Regions from separate parts of the Homo sapiens genome. Here all the other regions are reported to be linked to region 3. The links are microRNA targets in miRTarBase. Many come from high-throughput screens and were not tested one by one. Region 3 holds a microRNA gene; each other region holds the end of a gene's coding sequence.
What was found. Region 3 holds the annotated microRNA hsa-miR-6883-5p (AGGGAGGGUGUGGUAUGGAUGU, at 1,437-1,458, opposite strand). A microRNA usually pairs through its seed, bases 2 to 8, with sites in the 3' UTR of a target mRNA and lowers its output. Matches are read on the target gene's strand: a 7mer-m8 pairs with bases 2 to 8, a 7mer-A1 pairs with bases 2 to 7 and ends in A, and an 8mer does both.

Region 1: miRTarBase lists TRMT9B as a target of hsa-miR-6883-5p. Seed matches in the 3' UTR shown: 7mer-A1 at 304-310.
Region 2: the mRNA of QPCTL is a reported target of hsa-miR-6883-5p. Seed matches in the 3' UTR shown: 7mer-m8 at 2,257-2,263, 7mer-A1 at 2,090-2,096 and 7mer-A1 at 1,957-1,963.

Annotation. Positions count from the first base shown.
Region 1 is chr8:13,021,409-13,024,472 of GRCh38, reverse strand. TRMT9B (tRNA methyltransferase 9B (putative)) reads right to left here. Exons shown (of 5, transcript NM_020844.3): 5 at 1-3,064. The coding sequence ends at 2,429. The region is part of intron 3 of LOC124901889 (a long non-coding RNA gene); the gene reads left to right. Among named protein-coding and RNA genes, the nearest start is that of TRMT9B, 77 kb to the right of the region's middle.
Region 2 is chr19:45,702,482-45,705,545 of GRCh38, reverse strand. It overlaps QPCTL (glutaminyl-peptide cyclotransferase like), which reads right to left. Exons shown (of 7, transcript NM_017659.4): 7 at 1,559-2,642. The coding sequence ends at 2,497. Among named protein-coding and RNA genes, the nearest start is that of QPCTL, 11 kb to the right of the region's middle.
Region 3 is chr17:8,143,609-8,146,676 of GRCh38, forward strand. MIR6883 (microRNA 6883) reads right to left here and starts at 1,463; the gene lies at 1,386-1,463. PER1 (period circadian regulator 1) reads right to left here. Exons shown (of 23, transcript NM_002616.3): 15 at 2,986-3,068; 16 at 2,764-2,894; 17 at 2,350-2,529; 18 at 1,143-1,385; 19 at 1-268.

The DNA of each region.
Region 1 (3,064 bases), not on the chromosome of region 3:
TCCATTCATAATTCAAAGGCCGTCAAGCCCGAGTTGTAAGACCATTTTGACTCTGAGAATCTTTTCTTTTTACCAAGGAAATCCCTTGCAGTCATGGTTTAGTGTCCTGAATTAAGAAATAAAAGGAACAGGCCGGGCGCGGTGGCTCACGCCTGTAATCCCAGCACTGTGGGGGGCCGAGGCGGGTGGATCACGACGTCAGGAGATCGAGACCATCCTGGCTAACACGGTGAAACCCCGTCTCTCCTAAAAATACAAAAAAACAGCCGGGCGTCGTGGTGGGTGCCAGTAGTCCCAGCTACTTGGGAGGCTGAGGCAGGAGGATGGCGTGAACCCGGGAGGCGGAGCTTACAGTGAGCCGAGATCGCGCCAGTGCACTCCAGCCTGGGCGACAGAGCGAGACTCTGTCTCAAAAAAAAAAAAAAAAAAAAGAAATAGAAGAAACCAAATTAATTTTTAATTTATACTCCACTTATATATGTTTTCAATCATCCACTACTGCAGGATGTACACTGAACAGTACAACTCATATGCATCATTTTCACCAGACAACCTCATCTACCAAAATGGTGATAACACAATCTTATTTTGAAGCCAAAAGAGAGTTATAAACATCAATCGTTTTCAGATACGCTTTAAAAATATTTCTTTAAGTTTGTTCAAAAGTAACATCATTATTTTAAGTTATAGCACAATCATTAAAGGAAAAAAGAACCCAAGAACAAATGAAATTCGTTATTATTTTAGTCACTTTTAGTGGAAAAAATAAAACAAGATTTGGATTTTCATCCAGCATAAAGTAAAAAGACTCTTGTCAGATGTCAATTTTCTCATTAATGAACTACTTGAGACTGTACTCCTGGGTCAACTTATTTCTGCTTCTCCTGTCTCTAGACCTGTCTTAATTATATTTGTGTCTCAGGATCCATGACATAGATTTAAAGAGACCCATGGGCAAATCTAAACAGTGACCACACAGTGTCCAGTCTATTCGTTTCTCTACAAAGTGACAGAAATTCAACCTGTAATCAGTAGAAGTTGATTCTACCTAAATTCCTAATATAACTAATAAAATGTAGTCACCTTCAATAAAATAAATGCCCAGATACTATTTTAAAGGATACAGCAAATCCAAGTCATACCTCTACCAAGGCTAACTATGCTGTACCTTAATTTGTTTGTTCTCAGAGCTAAAATCAGTGCTTCACTTAGATTCTCCTTTCCTAAAGAGTCCGTCAACTCAGAAGAAATGCCTAGTTCTTGATGCAGACTCATCATTAGTCAATCTTGGTCTTGGATATTCATCCTTCTAATAAGCATGATTGATAACAATCTTGCTAATAAGCAATAGTAATATCAATCTTGAATATTCATGCTTCTAATAAGATTGGAAGAATACCACTTGGGTACTTGCATATAACTCCTACTACCTACATACTCCACTCCTTACAAGCTAACAACGCCTTTATTATTATTATTATTATTATTTTGAGACAGAGTCTTGCTATGTTGCCCAGGCTGCAGTGCAGTGATGCAATCATAGTTCACTGCAGCCTTGAATTCCTGGGCTCACGTGATCCTCCTGCCTCAGTCTCTTGAGTAGCTTGGATGACAGGCATGCACCACCACATCTTGCTAATTTTTATAGAGATGGGGTCTTGCTATGTTGCCCAGGCTATTCTTGAACTCCTGGGTTCAAGTGATCCTTCTGCCTTGGCCTCCCAAAGTGCTGGGATTACAGGCATGAGCCACCATGCTCAGCCTAACAGTGCCTTTAAAAACCTCCTGGGCTACATTGAAAACCTTATTATCACATGTCAACTTATTTTGAAGCAAGTTTGCTTATAATTTAGTAAAGTCCTTGTAAAACTTCTTGTTTCTCTCCACTGTCACTCAGTTTTCTGAAAACTTTAAGTAGAAGCAAGGCCTTGGCAACAAGATAACTCATCACATGGTTCAAAGTATATCTGTGCAATGGATCAAATTTACCTATTATCTTGCACACTGCTCTCAGTTATAACCTGAGAACCAGAAATTATCCCCTCACTTTATAAAAATACCGTTTTAAAAGATTATTTAACAGCATAATCTTTTTAAATCAATGTGTAATACTGAAAAACACTATACATGTATTTTATCTCTCTGGGGTTAAAAAAAAGTCTGAGGTGTACTGAAGGGTACTTTCTGTTGCTTCTTCAGATCTTGTATATTAACATTTAAGCACAAATACCCTTTGTCAAGTGCTTTCAATGCCAGAATCTGTGCTTATTCAAAAATGAAAACAAAACAACCAAATAATTAATAGTCTCTGCAGACCAAAGCGTAAATGGATTAACAAATAACACTGAATGCAAATTCAGGTAACCATATCAAACCAAGAGGAAAGAATGTGGTTCATCTTTTGGAGGAGTTGTCTAAAAGGATCCAATCAATCACAACCTCTCTTTTTCTCTGCAATGATACACCAGTTACCATGATCATTCCCAGAACTCAGGATACGGAGCTCTGACACATTCTCCTTGAGCAGACTGCAGAGCTCCCCTTCTCGAAACACATGGTAGTAGCGCATAAAGGCTGTGGAGTCCAAAACATCAGTCTGTGGATCTTCGACAGACATTGTATCATCTGGGTTGAAATCTGTGGAATCAACTGCAGAAATCCTTCTCAATATTTTACTAGCAGAAGGATTATCATCTTCTATGTTGCCTGCATCCACACAATTCACACCAGTATTAGTGCTATCCAGAAAATTTCCCCCTCCATTTCTCCTCATTTCCCCTTGATGGTCTCCATTTAAATGTTTCAGAGTGCCTGGTGCTCTCAGCCACTCCAAGTGTTTTCCAGAAGAAGATTCCACAAACACTTCCTCATCTAAACTTTGCCCTTTTGTTGAAAATGGCTCTTGGTGATCAAAGTCTAAACTAGAGTGTCTGGAAGGCTGGACTGTTACAGTGCTACTGGCCCAAACTTCTGTGTTTTTCAAGGGTCTTACTCTTTCAATTTGCTTCCTCAGAGTCGATTCATCCAAAGATCTGGAGAAAAACCAGGAACGAAACGATTTTCC
Region 2 (3,064 bases), not on the chromosome of region 3:
CGTGGTGGCACGCACCTGTAGTCCTAGCTATTTGGGAGACTGAGGCGGGAGAATCGCTCGTACCCGGGAGGCGGAGGTTGCAGTGAGCCAGCATTGCAGCACTGCGCTCCAGCCTGGGTGACAGAGCGAGACTCCGCCTCAAAAAGAAAAACCTCCTGGGCTCAAGTGATCCTCCCACTTCAACCTCTCAAAGTGCTGAGATTGCAGCCATGAGCCACTGCACCCAGTCTGCATTTTTTAATGAGCACCCCAGCTGAGTCTGAAAATTAGGTAGGGTTGGGAAATACTTGCTCATTGGAGTTTGCAGTTACACTGCCATCTCACAGTGCTGTACCAACAGCTGAAGGGGAAAGACAGTGTGCCCTAACTACTCTGCGGTAAATCTAGATCTGTCTTACCCATTCCTCTCATAGATGCTCTCAGACTTTCAAAACCCCATGTTTTCCAAAGTACCTTCTGAGGTATCCTAGTTCTTTTTGTTGTTGTTGTATTTTGTTTGTTTGTTGAGACAGCCTCGCTCTATTGCCCAGGCTGGAGTGCAGTGGCGTGATTTTGGCTCACTGTAGCCTCTGCCACCAGGTTCCAACAATTCTCCTGTTTCAGCCTCCCAAGTAGCTGGGATTACAGGCTCATGCCACCACACCTGGCTAATTTTTGTATTTTTAGTAGAGATGGGGTTTCATCATGTTGTCCAGGCTGCTCTCGAACTCCTGAGCTCAGCTGAACTGCTGGCCTCGGCCTCCCAAAGTGCTGGGATTTCAGGTGTGACCCACCATGCCCGGCCGAAGTATCCTAGTTCTATGAAGTGCTTCCCAATAAAAAGTGTTCCATAGTGAAATACTTTGGGAGCCTCTGGGTTCTGTCTTAAAAATTCACATGATGCAGTGAGGAAACTCATTTTATGTTGTCTCACCCTCTTCTTGGATTTCAGATCCCCCTTGTCATGCAATGTCTATTTACACGAGTTCTACAGAATGGCCTTTTTTGTTGTTGTTGGTGGTGGTGGTGTTTGTTTTGAGACAGGGTGTCACTGTGTTGCCCAGGCTGGTCTTGAACTCTTGGGTTCATGGGATTCTCTCACCTCAGCCTCCTGAATAGCTGAGACTACAGGGTGTGCACCACCACACCTGGCTTATGCAGGTGGTGTTTTGCAGAAACATTGGTTACGCTTTTTTTTTTCTTTCTTTTTTCTGGAGAATGGGGTCATGCTCTGTTGCCCAGGCTGGTCTCAAACTCCTGAGCTCAAGCTATCCCTCTGCCTCTGACTCCCAAAGAGCTGGGATTACAGGTGTGAACCACCATGCCCAGCCAGAAACAATGGCTTATTACCCACTGGGTCTGGAAGAATCTGGACTTCCAAAATATGAGCTTCTGTCTCCTCTGTGCCTGGTTATGAGGACATCCTCTGTGTGCCCCGTGTGGGAGTTAGGTTAGGACTGGTGCAGTAGCAAGGCTGCTGTTCTGGAGAATGAACTGACACAACACAAACCACAGAGAATTCATCTAGCTGGGTGGCATCACTGGGCCAGACCAGTAATAGTCTTTTAGTCTTTTACTCTTTTTAAAAAATATTTATTTATTTATTTATTTATTGAGATGGAGTCTCGCTCTGTTGCCCAGGCTGGAGTGCAGTGGTGTGATCTTGGCTCACTGCAACCTCCGCCTCCTGCGTACAAGTGATTCTCCTGCCTCAGCCTCCCAAGCAGCTGAGATTACAGGCGCCCACCACCATGCCCAGCTAATTATTGTATTTTTAGTAGAGACAGGGTTTCGCCATGTTGACCAGGCTGGTCTCAAACTCCTGACCTCGGGTGATCCTTCCCCCTCAGCCTCTCAAAGTGTTGGGATTACAGGTGTGAGCCACCACACCCAGCAGTCTTTTACTTTTTCAGTTCGCTGACTTAAAGAACAGCATTTTGCCAGGTGCGGTGGCTCACACCTGTAATCCCAGCACTTTGGGAGGCCGAGGCTGGCGGATTACAAGGTCAGGAGATCGAGACCATCCTGGCTAACACGGTGAAACCCCGTCTCTACTAAAAATACAAAAAATTAGCCAGCGTGGTGGCGGGCACCTGTAGTCCCAGCTACTTGGGAGGCTGAGGCAGGAGAATGGCGTGAACCCAGGAGGCGGAGTTTGCAGTGAGCCGAGATCGCACCACTGCACTCCAGCCTGGGCAACACAGTGAGACTCCGTCTCAAAAAAAAAAAGAACAGTATTTGGTCCCTGCAAACCTTTGGACCAAGTGTTTACCTCTGGGGAGGGAGCAAGTTCTTATTCCTCTGGCTGTCATCCCACAGTGGTCTCTTCCCTGTCCTTGAAGGGTGGCAGCTTGAGACAATCAAAAGAAAGAAGGTCTTCCAATTGTAGCACAATTAGGAGACAAAGGTATGAAAAGGACAAACCAGCACACCCTAGGCAGATCCTGCCTGAGCTTCACTGGCCCCCGCTGGGACCTTCTCTCTCACAGTCCTCTCCACAGTCATTGGCCAAGCACGCTAGAGCCCCAGGTATTCAGCCAGGAACACAGCGAGAATGCGGCACAAGTTGTGTACCGTGGGTGGGTGGAGATTGACCTCGGTGTCCGCAGGGGTGTGCCAGACAGCAGGGAAGGGCGTGGAGATGAGATGGAGCACGGGTACCCCTGAAGTGACAGAGGAGACTTTGTCAGGTCCACTGCAGCCCACCACAACCCAGGAGCCCAAGCCCAACCTCTAGGTAACCTTGCCTTGCCACCACACACTGGTGAAAGATACTATGTTCTGGCACTTTTTTTTTTTTTTTGAGACAGAGTCTCACTCTGTCGCCCAGGCTGGAGTGCAGTGGCGTGATCTCGGCTCACTGCAGCCTCTGCCTCCCAGGTTCCAGCGATTCTACCGTCTTAGCCTCCCGGGTAGCTGGGATTATAGGCAGGCACCACGACACCTGTCTAATTTTTGTATTTTTAGTAGAGATGGGGTTTCATCATGTTGGCCAGGCTGGTCTCAAACTACTGACCTCAGGTGATCTGCCCGCCTCAGGCTCCCAACGTGCTAGGATTACAGGTGTGAGCCACCATGCCCAGCC
Region 3 (3,068 bases):
AAAGCAGCTGGGGGCACAGATGTGGGAGCAGGGGGAAGAGGCTGGGGGCCTCCTCGAGGAGAGAACACTGGGAGAGGGTAGGGCTGGACAACCGCTGGGAAGGGGGTAGTGGCTGGTGGGGTGGGCCAGGGGGTGGAGGGTGGCACGGGTGAGGGGTGTGAGACATAGCAGGGCGCTTCAGCCCGAGGGTTCTGGTGGTGGCGTGAGCGCTTGGCTTTGGATCGGCAGTGGTGTCGGCGGCTTGGGGGTGCGGGGCCGTGGTGGCAGCCTGTGGGGAGAGACTAGGGTTAGCAAGGACCTCAACCTGGGGTTAGTACCCCTGCTACCCACACTGCCCTGACACGCTGACCAGGGAGAGGACAGGCCAAGGTCCCAGAGAGAGCTTCTCAACCCACACAGAACGGGGGACTCAGGAGGTGGGGCACCTTCAGGGAAGAATCACAGGAGCCAGGGACAAGGGGATTTATTGAGAAAGGAACAAGGCCAGGGAGAGGTTACACGAGGGGTCGAGCTGGGGGTGTGCGGAAGATGGAGGCATGCTGGCAGATGGAGGAAGCAGGGTGAGTCCATGGACACATGGACAGATGGCTCTGGTCCGCCAAACTCCTGTGGGCACTGCCAGCCTAGGCATTCCTCCTGCCCATCGAGGCCGTATTCTGCCTAGCTTGCAATGGAGTGAAGAGTGGGGCTGGAAAGCCCAGTCCTGAGTCCTGCGTCTGCCTGCAGGGGATCTCCCTCAGGCACCTGGAGGGGCTGCCTTCCACCTGCCCTTGAAGCCCAGACCCCACCCAGAGTTGGCCCAGAATCTATGCATGTCTCTTCATCAGTGACAACTGACTCCTAAGTGGGCATACTTCCTGCCCCTGCCCCCAGGCTAGGCCTGAAGTCGCTTACCTGGAGACAGCACCTCTGCCTGCCCATCCCAGTGCCATCCCCCCAGGCTGCCCTCCTCTGGCTGCAGCCCGGAACCCCATCCTAGTGGGGAGAAGCTAGCGAGGGGCCTGTCCCTAGGCAGGGCCTAGTGGTGGAAGCAACACCAGCCTGGGTCCCTGGAGCAGAAACACCTCCCTTAAGACCCACCCCCCAACAATCCAGTCCTAGACTGGGCAGAGGGCAGGCTCCAGGAGGCCCCAGGTGGCTACCTCGCTCGCCAAGGGCTGAGGGAGCTGTGGAAGAGCTGTCGAGTCCACGCAGCCTGCCCAGGTCTCGGAAGCGGCTGAGGAAGGCTTGCTCTTCCTTCTGTGTGTGCAGGGACAGCACGGCCTTGGTCAGCCCCACTGGACGGTAGGCGTCTGGGGCTGGGTCAGGGGCTACTGTGGGGCTGGGGGCTGGGCTGGGGGCTGGGCCTGGGGCTAGGCCAGGCAGGTCCTCCATCATGATGATGTCTGAGGAGAGTGAGATAGGGAAAGGTCATCAGAACCACTTCAGGGGTCAACACATCCATACCACACCCTCCCTGTCTGATAGCCTAGCCAACCCCTGGCAGCTCTGCCCCACAGCCAAGCCTGGTCTCCATGTACGTTTCTTGGTCACCTCTCTGCCAACGGCTGGCCCTGGGTCCTCCTCTCCATGCAAAGCTGGCCCAGAAGAAGAGACGATACTCAGGCCCCTCCAGTGGCCACTCCCTGCCAGGAACTCTACTGGGATGACCCCGTCACAACTCTCATTGGAAGAGAAGCCCACCCCTTGGCCTTCCCTCACACATTTTCTTGTTTCTTTTTTTTTTTTTTTTTGACATGGAGTCTCACTCTTTCTCCCAAGCTGGAGTGCAGTGGTGCGATCTCAGCTCACTGCAACCACCACCCCCTGGGTTCAAGCGATTCTCCTGTCCCAGCCTCCCGAGTAGCTGGGACTACAGGCGCGCGCCACCACGCCCGGCTAATTTTTGCATTTTTAGTAGATACAGGGTTTCACCATGTTGCCCAGGCTGATCTCGAGCTCCTGATCTCAGGTGATCCTCCTACCTCAGCCTCCCAAAATGCTGGGATTACAGGCCTGAGCCACCATGCCCAGCCCCTCATGATTTTCAAGGTCAATATCCAAAGACCCTTCAGGGATGTTCAATTTTCCTTGCCTTCAGACCCTGTGTGGTCAGCACCTCAGGGCAAACCCTCTATCCCAGACTCTGTGTTTCAACTGACAGTAACAATACGAGAAGCAGAACAGGGGAAGGGCAAAGCCGAGAAGCCTGGCAGGGAGGGGAGAGCAAGAAGCAGTAGCCCCAAGCCCCAGGTCAAGGGAGGCCTCCTTCTCTCCATCAGGCCCTAGAGGGGAGGGGAAAGGCAGGAGGGAGCTCTAGCTGGGAGACCGGTGGAGCCCAAGCACTGCCCCCCAATTCCACACCCATACCCGACTCCGGGGGCTTCTTGTCTCCCACATGGACGATGGTGGAGCTGAAGCTACACTGACTGGTGACGGACACCACACTCTCCGCCTTATTGGCCAGGGCGAGCGGGCTCAGGGTGCCTCCCACCACTGGCTCCTTCCGTGGGGTGGCCCCCTCCCCAGACAGCGCTGCTGACGGCGGATCTGTGCAGAGAGATGGTGCCAGTTACCATCCCCACCCCCACTGGGAAGTCAGGAGAGAGGATCCCAGGGAAAAGGGGAAGGGGATGGTGGTAGGGAACAGAGGGAACAGTCTGGAGACCAGGAGGCTGGGGAGGAGAGCAGGGCAGAGCAAGAGGGCCCAGAAGCAGAAGGGAAAAGACACAGGGCCACCAGGCCAGGACGGGGCAGTGGGAGCAGGGTGCATTGGATCTTTACCTTTCTTGGTCCCCACAGAGACTGGACCTGTCCTCTGCCTGTCGTCGTCAGAGGCTGAGGAGGTGGTATAGGAGGAGGAGGAGGCACATTTACGCTTAGTGGTGCTGGGGAGGTTGCAGCTCTCCAGGTACCTGGGGATGGACACAGCACAGGGCATCAGAGCAGGGCTTGGGGTGGGCAGGGTTAGAGCCCGAGGTGGAGAAGATGCCTGGCAGGCCTTACCTGAGGATGCTGTCCAGGCAGTTGATCTGCTGGTAGGAGCAGCTGGAGGCTTCTTTCCTCTCGGCCTCCTCAGGGACCAAGGC